Linked DNA regions of Homo sapiens: region 1 is linked to region 2. Evidence: fine-mapped expression QTL. A gene starts in region 2. The other region holds a variant in brackets. All regions are shown on one strand. Distances are from middle to middle.

Region 1 (5,523 bases), 120 kb after region 2:
TACAGCAGATTGAAGAGTCATAGAAGATGCAACCCTCTCATTCACTTTGCTTGGCATGTGTATGAAAAACAGTATTTTGGGTTCATCTAAATATGTCATTGATTTGGTTTGGCTGTGTCCTCACCCAAATCTCATCTTCAACTGTAGCTCCCATAATCCCCACATGTCATGGGAGGGACCCAGTGGGAGGTAGGTGAATCATGGGGCCAGTTACCTTCATGCTGTTCTCATGATAGTGAATGATTCTCACGAGATCTGATGGTTTTATAAGGGGTTTTTCCCCCACTTCGCTCTGTACTTCTTGCTGCTGCCATGTGAAGAAGGACACGTTTGCTTCCCATTCCACCGCGATTGTAAGTTTCCTGGGGTATCCCTGGCCATGCAGAACTGTGAGTCAATTAAACCTCTTTCCTTTATAAATTACCCAGTCTCAGGTATGTCTTTATTAGCAGTGTGAGAATGGACTAATACAGTAAATTGGTACTGGGTAGTGGGGCACTGCTGTAAAGATACTTGAAAATGTAGAAGCAACTTTGGAACTGGGTAACAGGCAGAGGTTGAAACAGTTTGGAGGGCTCAGAAGAAGACAGGAAGATGTGGGAACGTTTGGAACTTCCTAGAGACTTGTTGAATGGCTTTGACCAAAATGCTGATAGTGATATGGACAATAAAGTCCAGGCTGAGGTGGTCTCAGATGGAAATGGTAACTAGTTGGGAACTAGAGGAAAGGTCTCTTGTTATGCTTTAGCAAAGAGACTGGCAGCATTTTACCCCCTGCTCTAGAGATCTGTGGAATTCTGAACTTGAGAGAGATGATTTAGAGTGTCTGGTAGACGAAATTTCTAAGCAGCAAAGCGTTCAAGAGGTGACAGAGCATAAAAATTTGGAAAATTTGCAGCCTATGTGGTAGAAAAGAAAAACCTGTTTTCTAGGGAGAAATTCAAGCTGGCTGCAGAAATTTGCATAAGTAATGAGGAACCAAATGTTAATCGCCAAGACAGTGGGGAAAAGGTCTTCAGGGCATGTCAGAGACCTCCCTGCTGTGTACAGCCTAGGAACTTGGTGCACTGTGTCCCAGCCACTCCAACCATGGCTACAAGGGGCCAAGGTACACCTTGAGTCATGACTTCAGCGGGTGCGAGCCCCAAGCCTTGGCAGCTTTCACATGGTGTTGGTCCTGCAGGTGTGCAGAGGACAAGATCTGAGGTTTGGGAACCTAGATTTCAGGGGATGTGTGGAAATGCCTGGATGCCCAGGCAGAGGTGTGCTGCAAGGGCAGAGCCCTCATGGAGAACCTCTGCTAGGGCAGTGCAGAAGGGATATGTGGGGTTGGAGCCCCGACACAGAGTCCCCACTGGGACACTTCCTAGTAAAGCTGTGAGAAGAGGGCCACCATCCTCTAGACCCCAGGATAGTAAAACCACTGACAGCTTGCACCATGCACCTGGAAAAGACTCAGACACTCAATGCCAGCTGTGAAAGCTGCCAGGAAGAGGGCTGTACCCTGCAAAGTCACAGGGTCAGAGCTGCCCAACATCATGGGAGCCCACCTCTTGCATCAGTGTGATCTGGATTTGAGACATGGAGTCAAAGGATATTATTTTGGAGCTTAAGGATTTAATTACTGCCCTATTGAATTTTGGACTTGCCTGGGGCCTGTAGCTCCTTTGTTTTGGCCAATCTCTCCCATTTGCAGTGGCTGTATTTACCCAATGCCTGTACTCTCATTGTATCAAGGAAGTAACTAACTTGCTTTTGATTTTACAGGCTCATAGACAGAAGGGACTTGCCTTTGGATGAGATTTTGGACTTGGACTTTTGAGCTAATTATGGGATGAGTTAAAATTTTGGGGGACTTTTGGGAAGGTATGATTGTGTTTTAAAATGTGAGGACATGAGATTTGGGAGGGGCCAGGGCAGAATGATATGGTTTTGCTGTGTCCCCACCCAAATCACATTTTGAATTGTAGTTCCCATAATCCCCACATAATGAGAGGGACCCAGTGGGAGGTAATTGAATTGTGGGGGTGGTTTCCCCCATGCTGTTCTCATGATAGTGAGTTCTCACGAGATCTGATGGTTTTATAAGGGACTTTTCCCCGCTTTTGCTCTGCATTTCTCCTTGCTGCTGCCATGTGAAGAGGGATGTATTTGCATCTCCTTCTGTCATGATTGTAAGTTTCCTGAGGGCTCCCCAGCCATGCTGAACTGTGAGTTAATCAAGTCTCTTTTCTTTTTAAATTACCTAGTCTCAGGTATGTCTTTATTAGCAGTGTGAGAACAGACTAATACAGTCATGCAATTCAAAGTTGTTTCACACAATATTCTCTGACTACAAATGGTCATGTCAGGTAAATT[G/C]GTGAGTAGTACTGTGTGTCATTCAGGGTCTAAAAGGAAAATGGGCTGGGCATGGTGGCTCACACCTGTAATCTCAACACTTTGAGATGCCAAAATGGGAGGATCACTTGAATCTAGTAGTTTAAGATTAGCCTGGGAAAAAGAGTGAGACACTGTGTCTAAAAAAAATAAAAATTAGCTGGGCATGGTGGCACACTCACTTGAGCCCAGGAGTTTAAGGCTTCAGTGAGCTATGATTGCACCACAGCACTTGAGTCTGGGTAACAGAGCAAGACCCTGTCTCAAAAAAAAAAAAAAAAAAAAAAAATAGAAAATGAACAGTATACCAGAGGGAATTTAACACAAGGAATTATACAGGTATTGGAGGTCTAAGAAGGCAAAAGGGGAACTGATGTAACACAGAGATAGTAAGTGTAGAAAGCGAAGCAGTGATCAACCCTAGGGTTGTAGAAACAAAGGTAAAATGGTTGGGTTGTTAGAACTTGGTAACTTGGATGAAGGGCCACACATAACTGGGAGGATGGCTTCTGAGAAGGAGGTTGCTGGTGGCCTTGGAACTCAGAGGAAGTACCTAGTGTCGCAGGGACTCAGATCTCTGAAGAAGAGGTGTCCACTGGCTGATGCTCATGCCTTTGAGAGGGGGCCATGAGGCTGGCTCCGGGATTGTAAGAAAGGAAAAGAAATGAAACTGGAAACAATGACCACTCTCAGAGTAAAAAATTATGGCTGGGATGATGCTAATTGAAACAAGAAACAAAATAGGAAGCAGCCAGACCTATATCCCTCCTCCAGCCTTTCAGTCTCTTTTTAACACCCCTTACTGACAGAAACTAATAAAGCCAGCAAGCAAAAAAAAGATGTGGTTTGCAGAGTCCTCACCTTAGCATCAAAAAGCAGATTACAGAGGGTGGGCCCCTCTTTGGCCACTTCCCTACATGCTCATTCATACACATCCTCCTACATAGTGTCTGCTTGAAACCATGATGTCAAAATATAATTTCTTATAGCATGTTTATTTATTTTGGGGTGACAAATCATTATAATAAAAAAGGAGTTGTCCAAAAAGTGACATAGCTTTATAATAGCCATTATGGCAAAAAGTCATTAATTGAACAGTCATTACATGAGGGGATCAGGAACTAAAAATCAACGCTCATTATGGTCATAATGTAAAGAAACATCACAGGAAATCATATATATCCACCATTCATGAATAGAGGAAGTCTGATACCTAAGAACAGGAACTGGTCCAAAGGGGTAACCTGGAGCTGTATCTTTTTAAAGACAAAACACCCTCCTCCAGGCTTAACAGAGCTTGAAGTGTGAGAACCAGGAAAAGAGGAGTCAATCTCTGGGAACTTAGCTAATATCTACTTTCATGGACACCCCTACAGTCTAACTTTCATTCATTCATTTAACTATTATATGTTGAGTACATAAAATGTTCTAGGCACTAGAGTGGTGAATGAGACTTAATCCATGCTCTGATGGAACTGATTCTTTTTCTTTTTCCTCGCCCAGGTTGGAGTGCAGTGGTGTGATCTCGGCTTATTGCAACCTCTGCCTCCCTGGTTCAAGCGTTTATTGTGTCTCAGTCTCCTGCGTAGCTGGGATCACAGGTGTGCATCACCATGCCCAGCTAATTTTTTTATTTGTAGTAGAGATGGGGTTTCACCATGTTGGCCAGGCTGGTCTCAAACTCCTGGCCTCAAGTGATCCATTCACCTGGGCCTTCCAAAGTGCTGGGATTATAGGCGTAAGCTACTGTGCCCAGCCAGAATTTACTCTTTAGTGGGTGATTACAACAATTAACAGGTAAAAAGTAAATATATAAAGCTTAAATAAAGATATCAAGAAGTAGTAGGTACTACAAAAGAAAATAAACAGAAAAATGAACGGAGAATAGAAATTTAAACTAACCAGTAATAAGGGAGATGCAAGTCAAGACAATTAAATGTCTTTTTCACTTCCCAGATTGGTAAAAGTATAAATTATTGATAATAGCACCTTGTAAAGGATGAAATAAAATGGATATTTTCATACACTGTCAGTAGGAGTAAATTGGCAAAGCGTTTCGGGGGATATTATTTAGTAGTATAGAAACAAATTTGAATTTGGCACATTAGGTTAATATATTAAGTTGAATCATATGAAATTGCCAATATTTGACAAATTTTGGCCTAAAAAATGAACTTGAAAATAGATCAAATGAAATTATCCACACTGAAACACTAAAAGGAAAAAGAGTAAAATGTTTTCGAAATTTCAAGAACATACTGGTCAAAAGGGAACTGAACCAAACCACAATTTATTTTTCTTTTTGGTAGCTCCAAAATGAAAGAGGCTGTCTGTTATCCACTGGTTAGATAAAGTAAGCATTTCCCTTCTACACAGGCGATGAGGGGATGGGTCAGATAATTTCAGTTGTTCCTTTTATCTGGTTTTTCTATCTCCTGAGAGAGCATCCTTCCTTTTCTGATTCTCAATCCATGTACATAACTCATCTGAGGGATCTTTATAAGCTTGTAAGTCATAGACTTGACTCTTTCCTTTCAAAGTCCAAGTATTTTATTATGTGTGATGTCTCTGGAGTCTATTTGCCACCTAAAAATTGAGAATATGGTCCCAAGCCATCATTTCTGGATATCATTTGAAGCAGGAAATGTGACAACCATTCAAATAGGAAACAATGACAATGACCATTCCCAGAGTCAACATTAGATAATGCATGGACCTGTTGCATGGGATTTATGATGGTCAGGGGTGACCGAAATCAGGTTTCTTGGGTTCCCTCAGTCTAAGATGTCCTTCCAGTTGGAAGGGATCCCCAAATCATTCTACGGTATGGTCACAACCACAAAAGCACCTCTAGGATAAAAAGTGGTGGATAATTTCTCTACACTTCCTCGAAGTTCTGAGTAAGTCTCATCCTGTCCTTTTGAGTTTGAGTCACTTTGGCAGCATAGTCACTTTCCTGTGCTGACTTAGATCCTTTTATTTAAATCCCTGTTCCTGTCACTTGAAGGTGCTTGATGGAAACTGAAGCCCTTTGTTTATTAATTCCATGTGACCTGTTCTTTAGTGGGTAGTTAAACATTTCAAGGACACTGAAAAATACCAAAATACCAAAGAGTGTGCTGTCAGTTGTAGAGGAAACTAGGCTAT
Region 2 (5,000 bases):
GGGTGGGTGGGGGCGGGGTGGAGGAGGCGGTGGTGGAGGTTGCAGTGAGCTGAGATAGTGCTCCAGCCTGGGTGACAGAGGAAATTCCGCCTCAAAAAACGAACAAAAAACCCACAAGTCTATTTTTTCTCTCTAGCATTCTACCTGACCTTAAGGGATACTAAGGAAAGGGTGAGAATGGTGTAGGAGATGTAGAACTCCCAGAGATGGGACGTTGAGGAGGAAGAAACACAAGAGCTTTCAGGTTCATCTGTTATATGGGATAAAAGAAAAAAAGGAGAGCTTTCAGGAAAGATTTCTAAGACCGCTGGAGTCATGCCAGCGATTAGTGCCTGACGGCAAAATTACCCTTTCCCGGCTGTTGCTGAAATCTAAGGGATGATGATGAGGTGGACAAGGGAGCATGGAGAAAAAGTCTGAAGGGATGTTAAGGAAGCAACTGACTGGATATGCTAAGACGAAGGGAAGAGTAGAGTAGATTTCGGCTTAGGTATCTGTAAGTATGCTGGTGCATTTCAGGAAAAGAGGGCAAAGAGGGGAGGTTGTTTGTATGAGTTCGCGTTCGGATAGGCTGAGGTAGAGTTTGAGTTTGAGGTGCTCGTTGGGATAAGTAGGTTGAAGTATTCTGTAAGCAGTTAGGCATAAGGGTCTGAGCTTCTGAAACAAATTTGGACGTTAGTTGAAAGCATATAAATGGGTAAGACTCTTCGGGATAAGTGAAGAATTGGAGACAGGGAAACAGTCCAGCTGGACTCGCAGATTTAGAGATGGGCAGTGGCATGGGGGAGCAGGATAAGAAAAGTCGGCGAGGTAAGAAGAAAAACAGGGCGACATTTTGAAAGCCAAGGGAGCAAGTTTGAAGGCCGCCTCCTGGAGGTCAAGAGGAGGATGACAAATCTATTCTAGCCTCGGTCAAACCGGATTCCGAGGAGTGCAGGCGGGTGGGGGTGGGGCGGAGACACGCCGCTGCGGGCGACTTAAGTTTAGGGGCGAGAAAGGAGGCAGCCTTAGTAGTACATGTATTTTTAAAGGGAATTTGGCTGTGACGAGACAGAAAGGGCGGGACTTGGCAGTTTAGAGCTCAAGGGGATCATCGGCTTCAGAATCCCCTACTCTTTCGTGAGAGTAACTCTCCGTCTAAGGATGTCTTCTGCAGTTCCTTAGGGTCCATATTGGGATTTCCCGGCTGTAAACTAAACAAAGCAAAGCAAAACAAAACAAAAACCCACAGTGCCTCTCAGTAAAACAAAACCAGTATTTTGTTTGAAAGCCTGCTCTCTTTAAAGATCCTGGCATGCAAATAAGGGGCTTTAATGTGGCTCTCAGCGATTGGTAGATACTTACAAAATCCGTCATTTCCTTTCAGTGCAGGACGCAAACCAAGAGGCGGCTTTCTGCTTTTCTATTGGCTGTTAGATACGGCTCCGCTTTTAGCCAATCAAACGACTTCCCTTCACCCCTCCCGGTAGCTCTTATAAATTACATCAAATTGGTTATTCTTTCCACATTCTTCTCCTTGTAAAAGAAGCTGTAACTGCAATTTTAGCCGTAATGTCAGGACGCGGAAAGCAGGGAGGCAAGGCCCGCGCTAAGGCCAAGTCGCGCTCGTCCCGCGCTGGTCTCCAGTTCCCGGTGGGGCGAGTGCACCGCTTGCTGCGCAAAGGCAACTACGCGGAGCGGGTCGGGGCAGGCGCCCCGGTGTACCTGGCGGCGGTCCTCGAGTACCTGACCGCGGAAATTCTGGAGCTGGCGGGCAACGCGGCTCGGGACAACAAGAAGACGCGCATCATCCCTCGCCATCTGCAACTAGCCGTGAGGAATGACGAAGAGCTCAACAAGTTACTCGGGGGTGTCACCATTGCCCAGGGCGGCGTCTTGCCCAATATCCAGGCTGTCCTGTTGCCCAAGAAAACGGAGAGTCACAAGCCTGGCAAGAACAAGTAATTAAGAGGCTTGACACCATACTCATTCACCCCAAAGGCTCTTTTAAGAGCCACCAAAGTGTCAAATGAAGGGCTGATCACGAAATAGCGCATTAGCTCTTTTTTTGAAAACTTGGGTGGCTCTAAAAAGAGCCTTTGGTCTTGGTTTGTTTGTCTGCATTTATTTGCTTTTGGCTTTGTGGCTTTCGGTTTTCTTTGGTAACAGAACGGCCTGGATGTTAGGCAAAACGCCGCCCTGGGCGATGGTGACTTTGCCCAGCAGCTTGTTCAGTTCCTCGTCGTTGCGGATGGCCAGCTGGAGGTGACGAGGGATGATGCGCGTCTTCTTGTTGTCCCGAGCCGCGTTGCCCGCCAGCTCCAGGATCTCGGCGGTCAGGTACTCGAGGACCGCCGCCATGTAGACGGGCGCGCCGGCCCCCACCCGCTCCGCGTAGTTGCCTTTGCGCAGCAAGCGGTGCACTCGCCCTACCGGGAACTGGAGGCCAGCGCGGGACGAGCGCGACTTGGCCTTGGCGCGGGCCTTGCCTCCTTGTTTGCCACGACCAGACATGACTGAAATCAAGGTTAAACACAGACAACGCTCAGAACCTCGCAACAAAATAAGATTGAAAGAGAACCAAGAGGAAAGCCTTTATAAGCTTTCCTAGGGGTGGGGTCAAGAACGAGTTTTTCATTGGTCCTAATATGGCTTCAGAACCGGCCAATCAAGTCAAGAGTCGGTGTTGTTACGTACGCATTGCTGAAAACGCAAGGTCCGCACACGGACCAATGGAAATGAACGACTTTCGGAGCCCTAATTTGCATAAGGTGGTTATAAAAGAATCAGGCCCGCCCATTCTCTTACTTCTTTTCTTGGCTAAGCCGCGTTTGTACTGTGTCTTACCATGCCTGAACCGGCAAAATCCGCTCCGGCCCCTAAAAAGGGCTCCAAGAAAGCCGTCACCAAAGCCCAGAAGAAAGACGGCAAGAAGCGCAAGCGCAGCCGCAAAGAGAGCTACTCCATCTACGTGTACAAGGTGCTGAAGCAGGTCCACCCCGACACCGGCATCTCGTCCAAGGCCATGGGCATCATGAACTCCTTCGTCAACGACATCTTCGAGCGCATCGCGGGAGAGGCTTCCCGCCTGGCGCACTACAACAAGCGCTCCACCATCACATCCCGCGAGATCCAGACGGCCGTGCGCCTGCTGCTGCCCGGCGAGCTGGCCAAGCACGCCGTGTCCGAGGGCACCAAGGCGGTCACCAAGTACACCAGCTCCAAGTGAGTCCCTGCCGGGACCTGGCGCTCGCTCGCTCGAGTCGCCGGCTGCTTGACTCCAAAGGCTCTTTTCAGAGCCACCCACCTAATCACTAGAAAAGAGCTTGTTCACTTATTCCCTTAGTTTCTTTTCATAAAGTAAGTTATTTTAGTGTGAAGGTCATGGGAAATGGCATACGTAGCTTTTTAACTATTTGGAACTCGAGGTCCCCAGTGCGTCATTGGATTTGCTTTTGAATCTAGAGCGTGTCTTTACTCATTGTGCTGCTTAGCCTTCCCAGGAGTCGGTTCTCAATTAGGCTGTTGGGAATCCGCCTCTTTACCCGCCCCCACTCCCGCCCCACACGCGCCCTGGTGGCTCCTTGGGTCTGTTTCATTCTAAAACGAAGTGGCTGAGTTCGGCTGTCATTTAAGAGAACTCCAGGACACAATTCAGCCCGGGTTCCGCAAACACTGCGTGACAGCTCTGTATGACTGACGCTTGGCAGCAGCTTTTGTGTCCGGTCACCAGTTCTGCCGTGCGATGGGGCCTCCTGTGGATACCAGCCGTTCTGTGTATTTTGGACGAAGGCCGCGCAGCCGGGTCCCAGCCTTGTCCTGATTGGGCGACAAGAATATTCAAAATTCTGCGCCTTTTTCTAATTTGTAGATTTCAGTTTCCGTCGTTCACTTTGAGACTTTGAAATTCCTATTTCTCATTTTGTTGATAATTTCTGCATTTAATGGTCTGTGCTTTAAATGGTAACGCTACGGCCCCAGGTCACTGCGAGGCACTTACCATGTAGATACGGGCTCAAAAGTCACCTCTCAGAGACCTACGTCATCCACTCAGGAATTCGCGCCTCTCATACTTGCCTGTCTCATTTTATCTTCCTTCTAGCAGCTGTCTGAAATTGGTTCGTCTGTTTTCTTGTTTATGGTATTCTCAAGCCCTTGACAGACCGGCTAGTGTGGTTTTCCCGTGCATCTTCAGCCTGGCACATTATGGACACTTAAATACTACGTATTGATCTAATATTGTTGGGTTAATTTTTCCATCCCACCCTTTTCTTAATCGCTTCCGTGGATGGATGAAGGGTGCTGTTCATTTCCATTAGATGTATGTGAAGGCACAGTGAAAATGGAAATGTTCTTGGAGCTACTTCCTCAAAATGTATCCTTAGTCACCTCAGTGCAACAGCTGGGAGGGGGCCGTGTTAAGATTTTTTTTGCTACAAAGAGGAGGTGGCAATGGTAGATCCACCCTTATGCTTCTCAGTTTAGCATAACCTCTTATGGATTTTCATCAAATTCAGCGTGTTGGTCACTGGAAAGAGCCTTTTCCTTCTCCTTTTCTTACTCTCCCCTCATGGTGTTCCCCTCTTAAAGGAGAGGAGCTTTTAATTTACACTTACCACCTCATTTGCTTTTCTGGAGGCCATGCAATATAGGCGGGACTACAGAGTTAATCTCCTTTTTACAAATGAGGCCAAGAGAAGCCTCATTGGTTCACAGTCATGCAGCTCATACTGTCCACCCTTGTATTCTCAGATGCAGGACAATTGCATTTTAGTTTTATTTTGTGGAGGTGCAGAATATTTACTCTTTCTGTCCAACCCTTGATTCTGCCGAGGAAGACACTGATGGTTTGATGAGTGATTCAGCTGTTTTTGGCTAAGGGCTTTTGGAGCTGATGGCAGGGGTTTGATGAATCCAAATGAGCTCTAGACATTATCACAGACTGAATAGATCTTAACTGTCTCCTACATGTGTGTTTTCAAATGTGTATAGATGCTATTGTTATTAATAAAGTTACCAAT

The links. PIP is the estimated chance that this variant, and not a neighbour inherited with it, causes the effect.
Region 1: its variant is the best candidate, but not a certain one, in a credible set for the expression of H2BC21 in whole blood (INTERVAL, PIP 0.77).

Annotation. Positions count from the first base shown.
Region 1 is chr1:149,762,349-149,767,871 of GRCh38, reverse strand. All of the region lies in intron 2 of LOC105371406 (a long non-coding RNA gene), which reads right to left. Among named protein-coding and RNA genes, the nearest start is that of FCGR1A, 18 kb to the left of the region's middle. The variant G/C (reference allele first, on the strand shown) is at 2,359.
Region 2 is chr1:149,884,468-149,889,467 of GRCh38, reverse strand. H2BC21 (H2B clustered histone 21) reads left to right here and starts at 2,786. Exons shown (of 1, transcript NM_003528.3): 1 at 2,786-5,000. The coding sequence starts at 2,828. The coding sequence ends at 3,208. H2AC20 (H2A clustered histone 20) reads right to left here and starts at 2,550. Exons shown (of 1, transcript NM_003517.3): 1 at 2,057-2,550. The coding sequence starts at 2,493. The coding sequence ends at 2,104. H2AC21 (H2A clustered histone 21) reads left to right here and starts at 1,503. Exons shown (of 1, transcript NM_175065.3): 1 at 1,503-1,999. The coding sequence starts at 1,552. The coding sequence ends at 1,944. RefSeq lists enhancers at 693-812, 615-1,209, 1,433-1,722, 1,743-1,882, 2,293-2,352 and 6 more.